2 separate regions of the Homo sapiens genome follow, and region 1 is linked to region 2. Evidence: fine-mapped expression QTL. A gene starts in region 2. The other region holds a variant in brackets. All regions are shown on one strand. Distances are between the middles of the regions.

Evidence for each region.
Region 1: its variant is fine-mapped to the expression of MAN2B2 in whole blood (INTERVAL, PIP 0.93).

The regions. Positions count from the first base shown.
Region 1 is chr4:6,617,332-6,626,555 of GRCh38, forward strand. It overlaps MAN2B2 (mannosidase alpha class 2B member 2), which reads left to right. Exons shown (of 19, transcript NM_015274.3): 17 at 49-161; 18 at 2,596-2,713; 19 at 3,857-6,031. The coding sequence ends at 3,954. Among named protein-coding and RNA genes, the nearest start is that of MRFAP1, 19 kb to the right of the region's middle. RefSeq lists a silencer at 5,119-5,312. The variant G/A (reference allele first, on the strand shown) is at 4,274.
Region 2 is chr4:6,571,559-6,581,004 of GRCh38, forward strand. It overlaps MAN2B2 (mannosidase alpha class 2B member 2), which reads left to right and starts at 3,631. Exons shown (of 19, transcript NM_015274.3): 1 at 3,631-3,790; 2 at 5,020-5,166; 3 at 6,835-6,940. The coding sequence starts at 3,653. LOC105374365 (a long non-coding RNA gene) reads left to right here. Exons shown (of 3, transcript XR_925098.3): 2 at 1,951-2,049; 3 at 2,633-2,780. RefSeq lists enhancers at 1,827-2,595, 2,596-3,363, 3,364-4,132 and a silencer at 3,421-3,880.

The DNA of each region.
Region 1 (9,224 bases), 46 kb after region 2:
GGTTGGTTGATGAGGGTCTTCACTGCCACCTTCCTTCTGTCCCCAAAGGCCATCGAGGGGAAGCCCAGGCTGACCTCCGCCGTGTCCTGCTGCGGCTCTACCACCTATATGAAGTGGGCGAGGACCCAGTCCTGTCTCAGCCAGTGACAGTGAATCTGGAGGTGAACTTCCCCACCCCCATCCAGACCATAAGCCAGGGAAGCAAACCCTAGATGAAGCCCCAAGAAACTGCCTTGGCAAAGAGATCCACGAGGGCTTCCTCCCAAATGGACGCTGGTATGGGCCCCACCCCGCCCTTCTTCATGGTCTTCTGGGTTTGTCAGGTATTACAACTGGCCTGGTTTTTTAGGGTTTTTTGTGTATATGTGAGACAGGATCTCACTCTGTTGCCCAGTCTGGGGTGCAGTGGCACAATCTCAGCTCACTGCAACCTCTGCCTCCCTGGCTCAAGTGATCCTCCCACCTCAACCTCCCAAGTAACTGGGATCACAGGGGCGCGCCACCACGATGGCTAAGTTTTTTTTTTTTTTTTTGAGACCGAGTTTCGCTCTCGTCCCCCAGGCTGGAGTGCAATGGTGCGCTCTCAGCTGGCTGCAACCTCCATCTCCCAGGTTCAAGTGATTCTCCTGCCTCAGCCTCCCGAGTAGCTGGGATTACAGGCATGTGCCACCACGCCCGGCTAATTTTTTTGTACTTTTAGTAGAGACAGGGTTTCTCCATGTTGGTCAGGCTGGTCACGAACCCCTGACTTCAGGTGATCCACCTGCCTCGGCCTCGCAAAGTGCTGGGATTACAGGCGTGAGCCACCAAGCCTGGCCTAGTTTTTTTATTTTTAGTAGAGACACGGTCTTGCTGTGTTGCTCAGGCTGGTCTCGAACGTCTGGCCTCAAGCAATCTGCCTGTCTTAGCCTCCTGAAGTGCTGGGATTACAGGCGTGAGTGGCCTGTATTTTCTTTCTTATTTATTCTGTGGTAAAACTTTTAAAACACAGACAACATCTGTGTAATCCAAAAACAAAACAGATTCCCCATAGAGTTGCTTTGAAAGGTGACTTAGAGTCAGACAATCCAGGGTCCACACCCAGGCCCCTCTACGGGGGCATCTCCGGCACCCCATGCCTCTGGGCCTCAGTTTCCCCCCATGTAAAATGGGGAGAGGTGAGAGTTCTTTGCCCAGAAGGTTGCTGAGAGGCCCTGGCACTAAGGGGCCTCGTGCAGTGTCAGGGCCCCCAGGCCTCGTCCCCTTCCAGGTTCCCCTCTTGGCTGATGTTGCCCTCTCAGCTCTACTATCAGGCGAGGCTTCCGCCACCTGGCCTGCCCACGCTCCCTCCCCAGAAGGCATGACCTGAGCCGCCTCATTTCTTTCCCAGTTTGCATTCTTTCTATTTCATTTCCTGCTCATGGAGAATTTCTGTGAATCTCTGTGTTTCTGCCTTGGGCCTCCTTCGACATCTGAGTCTTCAGGGGAATCCAGAGAAGCCCCAGTACCTTTTCGCCATGATGTCTTACTGGGCCACCCACCTCCTCTTTCATGATCCTCGCCACGGAGGATCCTTTCCTCACGGTCCCTGGCCTGCCTGAGAGCAGGTCTAGGCCATGGCGGGTACCAGTGCCCAGCACAGGGCCAGCCTGCCCTGGGAAGCAAGGAGGCCAGCGTGGGACCTGGAAGTTGGTCATCTGATGCTCCCCCGTTTCACAGATGGAAGCACCAAGGCCCTGAGACAAGGAGACGGTTGGGATGGACACCATGACTCCCTGCCCAACGTGGACGGTGGTGGGGTGGAAAGACCATTGAGTTAGGAACGCAGTGAGTTTGGCTGCAAGTCACAAAACACCTAACAGATGTGCTTAGAACAGAGGACAGAGTGTTTTCTCACCGAACAGGCATGTCCGATGGACCCCAAGCGCTGTCACCGTGGGCCCGATCACTGTCATCTTCCCGCCATCGCCGGCAGACTGGCTTTTGTCTTTTGCCGTCTGCTTGTTTGCGGTCACAAGATGGCACAGGCCTCCCTCATGAGCAAATTTCAAGGCAGGGTAGGGCTCAGCAGTAGTGGCCAGAAAGGCCTTGCCCTAGCGTGGCTCTCTCCCTCCGTCAGCACACAGAAGCTTCTCCAAGAGCCACCCCCAGCCCTCCTGCTCCACAGACTTTTCCAGACCCCTAAGGGCCTCCTGCCTCCCCTAGGTGTAAGGGAGGCTGGGACAAGGCCTATTGGGAAAGGGGGATGGGGTAACTGTGGCTGGCTTCCTCCCTGGACTGGGCACGGGGCCACCTGAGCAATGTGGGGAGAGGAGAACTCCGCGGTGGGGTGGGCAGCTCAAAATGCCACACCTCCCGGGCTGCTCCTCCAGCTCGGCCACCTGGTAAAGCATGCACCTCCCGCTTCAGTGTCCTCATCTGTAAAGTACACGGCCAGTCCTGTCCTCGCAGATGTGCTGTGAGAAGCAGATGAGGGAGCTGTGTCAGGCACCAGGGGAGGACCTGGGCTCCTGAGGACACCGAGTTCGTGGTGTGTCTGCCCTGCTGCTGTCTTGGTTCTCTGCTCAGCTCTGGAACTTGGTGCAGCTCACTCTCCCTCTGCTCCTCTCCCTGCAGGCTGTGCTGCAGGCGCTGGGGTCCGTGGTGGCAGTGGAGGAGCGCTCGCTCACAGGGACCTGGGATTTGAGCATGCTGCACCGCTGGAGCTGGAGGACGGGGCCTGGCCGCCACAGAGGTTTGGGGACCCCCGCTTCAGCTCCCTACCCAGGACTCCCAGCCAGGCTCAGCAGCTGGTCAGACCCGGTGCACATCCAACCATCTGCCTGTCCCGGCCTGTGCGACCTTGCGAGGCTGCTTTCCTACTCTGAACCCGCAGCCCTCCCAAATCTACTACAGTCGGTTAAGAAAGGCTTTGGGTTAGTCTCTGCCTGCCAGGGCTCCACACAGGCGTGTGTGTGCACTTGTACGTGTGCACACGCAGACCACACGCCCTGCCTGTGCCCTGGGTGACAGCTAGGGGCCCAGGGGCTTCTGCCCACCTTGGCCCTGCTGACCTCAGCCCATCAGCCGGTCCCTGCCTCATACGACATGTGCCACCGTGAGCTCCTGCACTACAGGCAGCTTCCAGGCTCCACTCCCTGTCCGCACCATGCCCTCTGCCTGGGACGCACAGGTCCCATTCACTCTGGCCAGCACCTGCTCAAGCTCCCCAGGATGCCTCCCCAGAGTCACCAACCAGGCCAAGTGCCTCCTCCACTCTCCTGGCCCCAGGGGTTTCTTCTGTCCTGTGCAGCTCGTTGTCCACTACACACAGCATGGTGGCGGGTGCATGGTGCACGCTCAGTTGGTGGTGGGAGGAAGGAAGGGACGGAGGGAGGGAGGGAGGGAAGATGATGTTGGTTGGAAAGAAGGAAGGAAGATGGATGAGTGATAGATAAGTGGACGGCTCCCTCCCAAGATCGAAGCCCAACCCCAGGGCATGCCTTCAGGGGAGCCTGGTGAGGCAAGGGCAGACTCACCAGATGGTCTCAGAAAGCTCTTGGGCTTTGAGGGCAACACCCATGAGGAATTGAGGCCACTAGGGCCAGGACCAACCTATGAATTGCCCTCAGGGTGGGCAGAAACGCCAAGAGGCCCACAGGAGTCCTGGCAGAAGGGGATGCCATAGGCCGTTGCCACGGTGGGAGCCACAGCAGACTGTAGCCAGGTGCAGTGTGGTGAGAAGGAGGCTGGGAGCCACAGCAGATTGTAGACAGGTGCAGGAGGGTGAGAGGGAGGCTGGGAGCCACAGCAGACTGTAGACAGGTGCAGGGGGTGAGAGGGAGGCTGGGAGGAGGCATCCCAGGCCACACTGGACAGATCACCTCTGTTCCCCTAGGTGACACCACCTCTCCCTCGAGGCCACCAGGAGGCCCCATCATCACCGTCCACCCAAAGGAAATCCGGACGTTCTTTATTCACTTTCAACAGCAGTGAGCCCTGGGCAGATGCCCCGGCCCCAGGGCTTCCCCCAGGAACTCCATGTAACAGAACAGACCCAGGACAGGGAAAAGCAGTGCGGAGGGATGGGACTGGGGAGTCAGCTGCTCATCTGCAGGCTAATGGCAGGAAATGGTCATATTTGGGGTTTTTCCCTAATTTTTTTAAACAAAAATTACATTACAAGATCCAGGTTCTTCCCCCCCACACTCAATCAAGCCAGCCCTCTCCTCTTCTGTCACGTAAAGGATATTTGGCACACTCATGCGTCATTCATTCACAAAACACAAACCCAGGACTTTCTGCCTAAGGCAGA[G/A]CACAAGACTCACAGCAGCACCGAAGCGCATCTGCCGTCCGGGCCCTGCCAGGCTTGCCAGGCTGCCAGTGGTAACTGTGGACCTACTGCGTGCCACGTGTTTTCATAGACTCATCCCATGCTGGCAACAGCCCTGCAAGGGGCTTGGCTCTGCCACAGGGCAGGAGAGGAAGTTGTAGCGCCTAGCGAGAGTTCCAGCCCCAGACGCCCACCTGTGCCTCAGGGCACCGCCTGCCGAGCAGAGAAGGCACAGCAGCCGTCAGAGTCCATGAGAGGTGAAACCACACAGCAGGGATGTCCAATATCAGAACTATTAATATCAATAAAAGTATAACCTTCCCAGGTCTATGCCCAAGAGAATTGAAAACATCCATCCACACAATACCTGTGCTCCCGCGTTCATAGCAGCATTACTCAAAAGTCAAACGGTAGCAACAACCCAAATGTCCATCCACAGATGAATTAAGACATGAAGTGTGTTCTGTCCATACAATGGAATATTATTTGGCCATAAAAAGGAAGGAAATTCTGACGCATGCCACAGCCTGAGTGAATCCTACAAATATTACGCTAAGTGAAAGAAGCCAATCACGAGTTTATGTGAAATGTCCAGAATAGGCAAATCTGTGTATCAGAGACAAAGCACATTGGTGGTTGCCAGGTACTGGAGGAAGAGAGAAGAGGCATGACAGCTAACAGGGACGGGCTTTCTTTGGAAGATGATGAAATTGTGGAATGATGGTTGCACAACTTTGTGAATATACTAGAAACCAATGAATTAAAAACTTTGGAAGATGAATTTTATGGTCTGTGAATTATATCTCAATTTTAAAACTTTTTTTTTTTTTTCCCGAGACAGAGTCTCACTCTGTCGCCCAGGCTGGAGTGCAGTGTCAAGATCTCAGCTCACTGCGACCTGCACCTCCTGGGTTCAAGCAATTCTCCAGCCTCTGCCTCCCGAGTAGCTGCTACTAGAGATGCACCACTGCGTCAGCTAATTTTTGTATTTTTAGTAGAGACGGGGATTCACCATGTTGGCCAGGCTGATCTGGAACTCCTGACCTCAGGTGATCTGCCTGCCCCGGCCTCCCAAAGTGCCAGGATTACAGGCGTGAGCCAATGTGCCCGGCCTAAACCGTTTTAAAGAGTAAACTGTAAGATGTAGGAAATTATTTGGTACTCTAGGGCTGAAGGAAAGTACCCAGAAAGGACCAGCTTGGAAGGAGTCAGACCTCTGGACAACGTGCAGTTTGGCCACCAGACAGCAAAGACAGTCTCTGGTTTGGCCAGGCAGGAGCTGGGCTGGAGTTGCTGACCAAGCAATAGGCCACCCCTGTGAGGTGGGGTCAGGTGAGCAGCCACCAGAGGCATGGATGTGCAGTGGGAGGTTGAGGCACAAGGAGTGAGGCAGGAGCCCTTTAGAGCATGTGGGCTGCATGAGGCTTGGTTTCTGTGTCAAGAAGACTATGGAGGCTGGGCAGTGGTTCATGCCTTAATCCCAGCACTTTGGGAGGCCAAAGCAACCGGATCACTGGTGGTCAGTAGTTCAAGACCAGGCTGGCCAACATGGTGAAACCCCATCTCTACTAAAAATACAAAGTTAACCGGGTGTGGTGGTGTGCGCCTGTAGTCCCAGCTACTCGGGAGGCTGAGGCAGGAGAATCAATCACTTGAACCTGGGAGGCGGAGGAGACCTCCGCCTCTGCACTCCAGCCTGGGTGACAAGAGTGAGACTCCGTCTCAAAAAAAAAAAAAAAAGGAAGACTACGGAGGCCAGGCGTGGTGGTTCATGCCTGAAATTCCAACACGCTGGGAGCCCTAGGCAGAAGGATCGCTTGAGCCCAGGTGTTCCAGACCAGCCTCGGCAATATAGTGAGACCCCATCTCTACAAAAACTATTCTTTAGACGAGCGTGGTGGTGTGCACCAGTGGTCCCAGCTACTCTGGGGGCTGAGGTGGGAGGCTCACTTGAGCCCAGGAGGTCGAGGCTTCAGTGAGCCATGATCATGCCACTAACTCCAACCGGGGTAATAGAGCAAGACCCTGTCTCAGAAAAAAATAAAGAAGACTATGGAAATGTTATCCCCAGCGCAGCCAGGCTGTAGAAAAATCATGTGCACTGAAAGTACCATCACCCATGCTGACCATCCCCGTCCAGAACAGAAACAGCAAGAGAGCCACTTCCCCCTGCGGTCCCTCCAGCACCCAGCACCCTCAACTGGGAAGAGTGAGAAGAATATAGATGACAGGGGAAAACCCACCCACAATAGACAGAATATTGGCTAAAATCTAACATCCATTTGTTGCTTTGTTGTTATTTCATTTCATTTTACTTTTTTAGACACAGGGTCTCGCTCTGTCACCCAGGTGGGAGTGCAGTGGCACTATCATAGCTCACTGGAACCTCTTAACTCCTGGGCTCAAGTAGTCCTCCCATCCCACCCTCCTGAGTAGCTGGGACTACAAGCATGAGTCACTACACCCAACTAATTTTTAAAATGTTTGTGGAGACGCAGTCTCACTATGTTGCCCAAGCTGGTCTTGAACTCCTGAGCTCAAGCGATCCTCCCACCTAGGCCTCCCAAAGTGCTGGGATTACAGGCTCAAGCCACTGTGAATGGCCTGTTTTTTGTTGTTGTTGTTTGTTTTTTTTTTTTTTTTTTTTTTTTTTTTACAAACCACCACCACCAAACTCCCAATAAACTACGTTGCTCACTGACAATCCCCAACAGGTTTATTGCGGAACTTGACAGGATGATTCTGAAGTGCACTGGGGCTAGGTACAGTGGTTCGTGCCTGTAATCCCAGCACTTTGGGAGGCCAAGGTGGGTGGATCACTAGAGGCCAGGAGTTCGAGACCAGGCTGGCCAACATAGTGAAACCCCCTCTCTAAAAAAATACAAAAATTAGCCAGGCTTAGTGGCAGACGACTGTAATCCCAGCACTTTGGGAGGCCGAGGCGGGCTGATCACCTAAGGTCAGGAGTTCGAGACCAGCCTGACCAACATGGAGAAACCCCGTCTCTACTAAACATACAAAATTAGCCGGGCATGGTGGTGGGCACCTGTAATCCCAGCTACCCGGGAGGCTGAGGCAGGAGAATCTCTTGAACCCAGAAGGCGGAGATTGCGGTGAGCCGAGATCGTGCCACTGCGCTCCAGCCTGGGCGACAAGAGCGAAACTCTGTCTCAAAAAAAAAAAAACACACACACACACACACACACAAGTGCACATCTTCGTCCGTTTGGGCTGCTGTCATAGAATCCCGTACACTTTGGGAGGCCAAGGTGGGCGGATCACAAGGTCAGGAGATCGAGACCACAGTGAAACCCCGTCTCTACTAAAAATACAAAAAATTAGCCGGGCGTGGTGGCGGGCGGCCTGTAGTCCCAGCTACTCGGGAGGCTGAGGCAGAAGAATGGCGGGAACCCGGGAGGCGGAGCTTGCAGTGAACCGAGATTGTGCCACTGCACTCCAGCCTGGGTGACAGAGCGAGACTCCGTCTCAAAAAAAAAAAAGAATACCATACACTGAGTGGCTTATCAACAACAGGAATTTATTTCTCCCAATTCTGGATGCTGGGAGTCCAAGGTGCCAGCAGATTCGGTGTCTGGGGAGGGGCTGTTTCCTGGTCTATAGATGGTGCCGTCTTGCTCCGTCCTCACATGGCAGAAGGGGCAAGGCAGCTCTCTGGGCTCGGTTTCTAGGAGGGTGCTAATATAACAGTACTGAGTCTACCTTAAAGAAAAATTGTGTTTGCTTGAGTATAATTACAGCTTTGCTTACGCTTACACACTATTCATTAAAAACAGCCTCAGGGAAAGAGGACCTTCAGCAGAGATAAGAGAGAAGTGCACTGACCAGCAATCCTGGAAGCGGCTAGCCGCAGGTTTCCACCCACCAGATGAGAATAGTTGGGCTGAGGTCGAGGCAGGAGGATCACGTAAGTCCAAAAGTTTGAGACCAGCCTGGGCAAAATAGGGAGACCCCGTCTCTATAAATAGTAACAAAATTTAAGTAGGTGTGGCACACGCCTGTAGTCCCAGCTACTCAGGAGGCTGAGGTGGAAGGATCCCCTGAGCCAGTGAAGTCAAGGCTGCAATGAGCCATGCCTGGGCAACAGAGTGAGACTGTCCAAAAAAAAAGCAAAACTAAGACTAATCTGGCTGGCCTGGTGCAGCCAGCACTTTGGGAGGCTGAGGGGGAGAGATCATTTGAGCCCAGGAGTTGGAGACCAGCCTGGGCAACTTGGTAAAACCCAATCTCTAAAAAAAATTTTAAAATTAGCCAGGTGTGATGGTGCGTGCCTTTAGTCCCAGCTACTGTAGAGGGTGAGGTGGGAGGATCACCTGAACCTGGGGAGGTCAAGGCTACAGTAAGCCGTGATCATGCTACTGCACTCCAGCCTGGGCAACAGAATGAAACCCTGTTCCAAAAAAAAAAAAAAAAAAAAAAAAAAAAAAAATAGCTGCACTTGCAAAAGGTCACATGACATCCCCGCAAGACAGCAATCGTAACTACCTGCCTGAGACTGCGCACATAGCTGCTGTTCCACAAGAATGCTTTGATCATCATTCGCACTTCCCCAGATTTCCCTTAAAAACGTGCATCTGGAGACACAACTTGGAGAGGTGATCTTTGAACACAAGAGTTCAGTGCCCCTGCCCCCACCTCCCAAGCTGCTGGCTTCTCGAATAAAGCTACCTTTCCTTTTACCAAAACTTGTCTCTCGAATGTCGGCGAGTGAGTGGCCTGAACCCGAGTTCAGTTACACTAATCCCCATAACCTAATCACCTCCCAACATCCCCACCTCCTAATACCATCAACTGGGGGATTAGGGTTCGGTATATGAATTTAGGGGGACAAAAACATTCAGACCAGAGCAAACAAAGAGCTCAGAAGCTGGACCGCGCACACGGAAGCTGATAGAAGAGAGATGGGGCCGGGCGC
Region 2 (9,446 bases):
GGATCTGAATGAATAATCCAGGAGGGGGTTGTGAGTATCACCTTCAAGCCTGAGACTAGCTGCAGCAAGAGCTCACGCAAGAGCCTTGAGGAAAGTACAAATGAAACCCTACACAGCTGTGATACAGTGGGCAGGAGAGAAAATGACATGAGGTCTCACATGTTGTTGTAGTCAGATGGGGGGCTGGAGCTGAAACAGCATGGTGATCTTGAGCTGCTCCCTGTGGTCTGCCCCATGTGGGCTGGTTGGGCTTCCTCACAGCATGGTGGCCTCAGGGTAGTTGGACTGCTGACAGGGCAACTCAGGCCTCCAGGCACGAGTGCTCCAGTGAACATGGATGTCATGGAAGTCACACAGTACAACTTTCACTACATTCTCTTTGTAACAAGTGTGTCACAAGCCCGCCCATGGGCCAGGCACAGTGGCTTATGCATGTAATCCCAACACTTTCGGAGAATCCCTTGAGGCTAGGAGTTTGAGACCAGCCTGGGCAACATAGAGAGATCTTGTCTACAAAAAAGAAAAGAAAAATTAGTTGGGCATGGTGGCATACACCTATAATTTCAGCACTTTGTGAGATGGTGGTGGGAGGATGCCTCGAGCCCAGGAGTTCAAGATCAGCCTGGGCAACATAACGGGATATTATATCTAAAAAAAAAAGAAAAAAAAAAGTTTTCATTAGCCAGGCATGATGGCACATACCTGTGGTCTCAGCTACTCAGGAGGCTGAAACAGGGGGATCACGTGAGCCTAGGAGTTTGAGGCTGAAGTAAGTTAGGAGTCCACCACTGCACTCTGGCCTGGGCAACAGAGCAAGACTCTATCTCTAAAAAACACAAAAATTAATAAAATAAAAAACAATAAATAAACAAGATTCAATGAGAGGAGACATAGACCCTATCTCCTAATAGGAAGAATGTCAAGATCATATTGTAAATCAAAAATAAAATTATAAGCCCCAGCTGAGAGAATGGACCCCCTGTCGGCCAAGGGGACCCCAAAGAAACCCAAAAAACTAGTTCAGGCCATGATGGGAAGTGGGAGGTCACACATGCCTCATCATAGCCTCCTCCCTTTAAGTTTCGGCACAGCTGACCAGCATTAACATTAACATAGAGATCCTCCTAAGACTGACAGAACACTTTTGTAGCAATCAGATACCCGATTCTAACATGACTCTGGTATAGCAACACACGACAGAGAGCAGGCCCTAAAGGAAATCAAAGTATTTTACCCCAAAATAAATTTTCTTTGACATATTTTGAAATGGACTTGCAAAGTCATCTCTTGTGGGGGAAACTTGCATTCTGTAGAGAATCTCCTTACTTACTAGCTCTTTTCCAGAGAGTCTGATACCTTTTAAGGTCCCCAGAGACATGCACATCTATTCTCTCTGAAGCCTGCTAACTGGAGGCTTCATCTATGTAACAAGAACCTTAGCTTCCACATCCCCATTGTCTTAACTCAAGCATTTCTTTCTGCCGACTCCAACTCTTCAGGTAAAGCTTAACTCTTTTAACCAATTGCCAATCAGGAAATCTTTGAATCCTCCTCTGACCTGGAAGCACCACCCACCCACTTCAAGATGTCCCACCTTTCTGGGCCAAACCAATGTATACTTTACATATATTGATTCATGTCTTTGCCTGTAACTTCTGTCCCCATAAAATGTATAAAGCTATAGCCCAACCACCTTGGGCACCTGTTCTCAGGACCTCCTGAGGCTGTGTCACAGGCCATGGTCACTCCTATTTGGCTTAGAATAAACGTTCTGAGATATTTTAGAGTGTGGCTTTTCTCGTCAACCAAATTCTACAAAGAGCTTGGGGGGTGGGTAATGTTGTGGAGCCCATCTTTGGCAGATACAGTCTGCCAAAGATTGTGACACTGCCTTATCGATAAACTCAGTGGCTTAACACAATTAAAGCTTATTTCTCCCTCTTGTCACAGCTCTTTGGGTTCCTCATGGTTCCATGTGGTTCTTCAGAGCCTCCATTGGTGGCTCTAACCTCCCTGAGGTCCTCGGAGTGCCCTCCACTGGAGCAGTGGGTGAGTAAGAGAGCAGGGCTCACCCACAGGAGGTTGTTAGGGGCCAGCCTGGAAGAGGAGCACAGTGCCCGCCCCCACCCATCCCATTGACTAGCACTTAGCCACGTGGCCGCACCTGGTTGCAGAGGCTGGAGAGTGGAGCCCAGCTGTGAGCCTGGCCGGTCATGGGGACATGTGTTAGTGAGTACTGTCCACGTCAGGCTCAGACCATCTGACCTGAGGCTATGGGGATGCAGGGGTCCCCAGGGGGTGGACAGGACAGAAGGAGGAGGGAGACCTGCTTGGAGAACCTGTTCTCAGTTTCCATTTGTTACATAATGGACAAGAGGACCAGCACTTTTGCTCAGAGCTGCAGCTCTGGTTCCGCTAGGAAATGCCAGGCAGGGGCACAGCCAAGTGGTTCTCAGACAGTAAACCCCAAGCCACAGACCCTTGCTTTCTTGGGCAGGGAGTAGTGGACAGGGCTGACTCCAGGCAACAGTCCCAAACAGGCTGCACCAATGTGACCGCACCTCCCCTGAGTGCAGGCAAGGGGTGCTGTGCTCACGCTCTCAGCCTGGGTGCATCCTTACTTTGTTCACAGCTCCTCTATCGGACCCATTTCACTGAGGCTCAGCGAGGTTACCTATGTCGCCCCAGGTCACCATCCAGTAACCCAGAAAGCTTCTCTTGGCTCCTCCACTAACTGCGTGATCTTGGACAAGTCAGTTACTGTCTCTGAAAGCCAGTTCTCCTCCTTAAAATGGAGACAGTTGAGCCAGGCATGCTGGTTTATGCCTGTAATCCCAGCACTTTGAGAGGCGGAGGCAGGAGGATCGCTTGAGCTCAGGAGTTTGGGACCAGCCTGGGCAACATAGTGAGGCCCCCATCTCTATAAATTTTTTTTTTAATTAGCTGGGTGTGGCAGTGTGCCCCTGTGGTCCCAGCTACTCAGGAGGCTGAGGTGGGAGGATCACTTGGGCCCGGGAGGTCAAGGCTGCAGTGAGCCCTGATCGCGCCACTGCACTCCGGCCTGGGAGACAGAGTGAGATCCTGTCCAAAAAAAAAAAAAGGAGACAGTCCCATAACAAGCCCCCCATGGCGCCGCCCAGATGGGGTTTCGACGCCAGGGAGAGGAGGGAAAGGGTTATCAGGGAAGGTTCCTGGTGGCAGAGCTCACAGGGTCCGTGCTGAGCCGAATTTTGCACGGTAGCCTCAGAGTCCCGGAGCCGAGTCCAGAGGGCGGGATGCAGGTATTGCGAAGAGGCACACGCTCCGAGAGGAACCACCAGAGCGTGGGCTTTGGGCGAGGAGGGGTCTCCTCTGGTTGGGGGAGATCTGGCAGGCTTGGGGGAGATGGGGCTGAAAGGATGGACAGGGAGGGAAGGCCAGAAAGCTGGAGACGGGGATGGAGAGCTAAACCGCAAAGAGCAGGCGCCCTGCCCCGCTGAGGGCCCCGCGCCTCCAGCTCCTCCTTCCCGAGCTTCCCGGGGTCGGCGTCCAGCCGGCAACCAATGGGCCCCGCCCCCGCCCGCAGCCAATGGGCCGCGTCCCCGCCCGCGCGGCCGCCCCGCCCCTCGCGGACCCGGAAGTGGGCCTGGCACCTTCCCGGCCTGCCGCAGGGATGGGGCAGCTGTGCTGGCTGCCGCTGCTGGCACCGCTCCTGTTGCTGCGACCGCCAGGGGTCCAGTCCGCCGGCCCCATCCGGGCCTTCGTGGTGCCCCACAGCCACATGGACGTGGGCTGGGTCTACACTGTGCAGGTAGGTGCCGACCACGCCCCGCGCGCCCCTGAGGCTGCAGCTTCCCTCTCCCCGCGGGATCTGAGTGTGGGTTTGCGTCCCGGGGCCCGATGCCGGCGCAGAAGGAGGCTCAGTGGGTTCAGGACCCCACGCTGCCATTGACTGGTTGCGTCGCTAACTTCGGGCCAGTCACTTCCTGCCTCTGAACCCCCATTTCCCCTTCTGGAGGGTGGTGCAGATTGGAGGGACCCCTGCATTCCCGGCTGGGGAGGGGCTTGGGGGTTGACAGTGGTAACCCATTTTCCAGGGAAGCCTGGAGCAGGAGAGGGTGGGGCTGGCTTCAGAGCAGGTGGATGTCAGGTGCCCGCTGGGAAGGGGCCGGGCTGGTCCCCTGCGGGGCTGAATATTGGAGGCCAGCTCAGCGTCCTCCGCCCCCCAGGACAGGGGTGAAGGTGGACCTGTGGTCACCTCCTGGTTCTGCTCAGGACCTTGGGCGAGGGGCTTTGGTCCCTAAGCCTCAGTTTCCCCATCTGTAAAGGGTAGGGGAAGCATGCCCACTACAGCCAGTTTCCAGAGGAGAAAACCGAGGCCCAGAGAGGGTTGCTGCCTTGCCCAAGGTCGCTCGGGAATAACCCTCATGCCTCCTGACTCCCTGCTCGGTGCTCCTTCCATTCATGTAAGCACTCTGTGGGCACCCTGTGTGCAGGGCCCTCGGGACTCGGATGGGAACACACTACAGCTGTGGTCCTTGGAGCTCCCAGCCTTGGGGAGGCAGACGCCTAGACGCCAGGGACAGCCTGGGGAGCTCTTCCTCTCAGCACCAGCTTTCCTCATTTCAGCCCCAGCAGGCCCCTTTGGGGTCACTGGACCACACCCCGACTGAGGCCTAAGACTTTCCTGTGCTGCCCCTCAATGGCACACTCAGGGCCCAGCCCCCCAAATTGCACACTCAAGGCCCAGCTTGCTCACCCCTCTGAGAAACTGTCCCTGACCCCTGGGCTGGGAGGGCACCTGTCTCTGCCCATGTAGGGTGTCTGTTTCCCCGTCCCTCTCCCCCAGGAGAGCACGATCCCATCCAGTGGGGAGAGCCTGGTATGGAGCGAGTGCCTAATAGCTGTGTGGGGGGTGAGCAGCAGGGAAGGAAGGGCAGAGCCCCCAACCCCATGCAGACACACCTGGCGAATGGCAGGGGCCCCAGGGACACTTGGTCTTGTTGGACCGGGGCTGGCATGATGCTGTCCCCTCCCCAGGAAAGCATGCGGGCGTACGCCGCCAATGTCTACACCTCAGTGGTGGAAGAGCTGGCCCGCGGCCAGCAGCGCCGGTTCATCGCTGTGGAGCAGGAGTTTTTCCGGCTGTGGTGGGATGGCGTCGCCTCGGACCAGCAGAAATACCAGGTAATGAGGTCACCAGGTGACACAGTTGGCCCAGTATCCTGGCAAAGACCCAGGTGGAAAACTCAATGGGGCAGTTCTAGCCAGGGCCAGGGCCAGGCTGGCATAAACCACAGGGCCAAAACCCCACCGGGCTATTCACAGCCTTGTTTAGATCAAGGTTCACGGTGAGTTCCATGCCTGGGAGAGATTGCTTTCAATTTAATCCTGAATTTCTGTCTATTCTTGAAAAAACTGCCAGCTCTGGCAACCCAGCTGTGCACTTCCGTGCCAGCTGGCACTAAGTCAGCAGTGCCCCCTGACACCAGGCATCCCAGGTGTCCCCAAGCCCTCACCCTCTTCTCTCATTTGTGTTATCTGCCTGGCCCCCGGGCCCAGGGTCTGGTGACCCTTGATGAGGGTGCGATAGTCCCTGTGGTTTGAGGGTAGGCAGCAGGTTGCTTCATACAGCATGGAGAGTCAGAGTCCCCGCTGCACAGTGAGGCAGCCTGGGTCCCATCCTGCTCCCGCACCAGGGGACACGACTAGCCCCTGCGAGCCACAGATTCCACTTCTATTAAACGGGGGTGACCGCCCCATTGCAGAAAAGTCATGCCAAGAATGAAGCCCTGGCGTGAGCACCCAGGACGATACTCGGGGGTTCTTAGTTTCCTCCCAGGTATCCACCTGCCTTCAGAATAGTTGCTGAACATAAAGTTCAGGGACGCCAAGTGACTTGCTCAAGGGAGTGAAGCGGAGAAGGGAGAGCAGGGCGTCCACCAGGCCCCGCCAGAGTCACGGGAAGGAGCCGGACATCCAATGGCCACTTGATGCTGCCAGATAGTGGGGTTCTTACCTCAAGTTAAAGAGACATTCCAGGTTCAGAGAGGGCACGCCACTGGCCTGCAGTCACACAGCTTGTAAGCGGCAGGTGGGATTCTGAGCCAGGCATGCCTGACTCGAGGCAGGCCTTTCCAGGATATCCTGTGAGCGTCCCATGCTTCTTCAGGTGGACCCCACCAAACCCAGTGGTCTGTCTCCTAGCCCTCAAAGAGAAGCATGGCCTGCATGGCCCAGTGAAGACCTGGACAGGAAACTTGTGGCAGAGCTCCCTGGAGGCAGGAATTGTTGCCTGCTTCATTCACTGCTGAACCCCCAGTGCCTGAACAGTGCTGGTTGTGTAGTAGGTGCTCACTTAACATTTGTTGAGTGAATGATCTACATATAGTGCACCTTAAGAAACAAACCAAAGGCACAGCCTATAAACAGCTGTGTGTACACATACTGAGGTGTGTAGTGTCTAGGGCAACAAAGGTGTTATGTGTGTAGAGACGGGGATGTTAAGCAAATAGGTTAAAAATGGTAGTGATGAGTGAACCTTGGGAAAGGATATGGGAGCTCTTTGTTCTATTCCTGAAACTTTTCTAAAGTTTAGAATTAGTTAATAAAATAAGATTTAAGAAAATCTTATATATACAAATATATATCTCAAATACCACCTGAGGGCTGCATGATTTCTAGGTGGTGGGAACACAGTGTGGACCAGGACAGACAGTGCCCTGCTTTTATAGAGTAAGCAAGGGTGGGGAGTTTTATGCAGGGCGTGTGTGGCGCTGTAGGTGTGTTCCCCACAGACCCAGCCATGCTCAGGAGCCGTAACTGGCTTTTTTCTCTCTGCCTGCCCATGTCAAGGTCCGCCAGCTCCTGGAGGAAGGACGCCTGGAATTTGTCATCGGAGGCCAGGTCATGCATGACGAGGCTGTGACGCACCTTGATGACCAGATCCTGCAGCTCACAGGTTTGGCCACCCTACCCTGCACCCAGGGTCCCTCAGGACCTCCAGTGGGGCTGGGACATGGTATCAGAACCCCCAGGTTCTGAGCTCTGTCTGCCCCTCTTAGTGGGGTCGGGGACCTTAACCAGTGAAAGCAGTGATTTGCTAGTGCCATATTCATGCCTCACCAAGGAAGTTGAATGTAGGGGTTAAGAGCATGGATGCTAGAGTCAGATGGTCTCAATATATCCTGGCTCTGCCAATTCCCTCCTCTGTGACCCTGGAAAGGAATGTAACTTCAGTTTCCTCATAGATAAAATGAGTTTGATGGTAATACCTACCTCAAAGGGTTGTTGTGAGTATTAAATGGGATAATTCAAATAAAGCACTTTAGTAGGATGTGGGTTCCCTAGTAAATGCTCAGTAAGTGTTTGCTGCCTTCCATCACAATTACCACCTTCAGCACCATAATGACCATGACTACTACCATCACCACCACCACCACGATGACCATCACTACCACTACCATCACCACCACCACCACCATCACCATCACCACTACCACCATCACCACCATCACCACCACCATCACCATCACCACCACCACCACCATCACCATCACCAGCACCACCACCATCACCATCACCACTACCACCACCACCACCATCACCACCACCATCACCATCACCACCACCACCACCACCATCACCATCACCAGCACCACCACCATCACCATCACCACCACCACCACCACCATCACCACCACCACCCTTCACCACCATCACCACCACCACCATCACCACCACCATCACCATCACCACCACCATCACCACCACCACCACCATCACCACCACCACCACCACCACCATCACCATCACCACCACCATCACCATCACCACCACCACCACTACCCTTCACCATCACCACCACCACCATCACCATCACCACCACCATCACCACCACCCTTCACCATCACCACCACCCTTCACCACCACAATGACCATCACTACCACTACCATCACCACCACCATCATAACTACCATCACCACCACCCTTCACCACTGCTATGACCACCACTACCACTACCATTACTACCACTACCATCACCACCATCACCACTACCACCATCATCTTCACCACTACAATGACCATTACTACCACTACCATCACCACCACCCCCTAAACACTATCACCATGATCACCACCCATCACTGTCGCCACCACCATCACCACATCCATTACTACCATCCCCTCCACAATCATCATCACCACCACCATGACCATCTCCCTCACCATTGTGTCCACTGTCCTCAGCACCATCACCCACAGTGCCGTGGGGCACTCTACTCACCATTTACCAAATGCCTTTCACAGTGACACCCCAGCCAATCCTAATGGCGGGCTGATGGTGAGGCATGGTGATGCCCAGTTTCATTTTGCAGATGTAGAAACTGAGATCCAAAGAAATGCAGTAACTCTCTCCAGGGTAGATGGCCAGGACTTGAGTCCAGGCCTAGGGACTGAAGCTCCGAGTCCACAGTCACTCCACTACAGCATGGGCCCTGATTTCCCCATTTGTAAAACATCCAGGCAGAGAGCAATGTTGTCAAAGGATGTTTTTGGCACTCTCCCTTTTCTCATCTGTAATCTGGAGTGTTCCCCTGTCTCAGTTTCTTACTGCCTTACATCTGGACTTTGCTCAAACCCTAGACTTGCCCTTCCATGAGAAGGAGGCGTGATGGACACAGCCCTACAGACAGAGCTCCTCCTGTGGCCAGGAGCTCAGCCCCTGCTTGTCCCCCTGCATCCCCACAGGCCCAGAGGTAACAGGGGAGGACAGCAAGGCTCAGAGGGAGCACCTTGCCCTCAGCCGCCTGCTGTGGCTCCCTGACTCCAGAGCCCCTGCTCTTTCACTCCCCCATGTGAAGTGTGGGCAAGGGATCTATCCCAACAGACTTCCCCCACACCCCTTCACAAGCCCACTGCCAGGGAATGTGTGACACTGTAGGCGTGTCCCCCACCTGCCTCCTGCCCCGTGCCAGCGAGGAGGCTCTGGGGCTGTTTCTCACCTGTGCCATTTCACGCAGTGCTCCCCCTCATTCTCCACCCTCCTCCTCAAGATGCAGCTGAGAAGCCCCTCCCGCAGGAAATCTCTGAGTCTCTGCAGTTCTGTGTCACCTCCCCACTTAACCGCTGAACCTCAAGATGCCCCTGGCAGGGACCCCCATCTGACTCATCTCAGCACCCAGCATAGGGTCTGGCCCAGACCACTGCTTACTGGGCAAGGCTGGGCAAGGGGTGGGCGCTGAACTGCCCTGCCCTGAGGGTACCCACCACTGGGGTACCTCGCCTCTGGCCTCAGCCCACCGTGCCTAAGTGCTGATACCCCAGCGCTGACCCTGCAGGTCTGACCTGGCAACTGGAAGCCTCAGGGAAGCTGAGGCTGTGTCGCTCTGGGGCAGGAAGAGCCTCCAGAGACACAAGAGACAGCGGCTGTTGTGAGGCTCCATTTCCAAACCTGTCCAAGCTC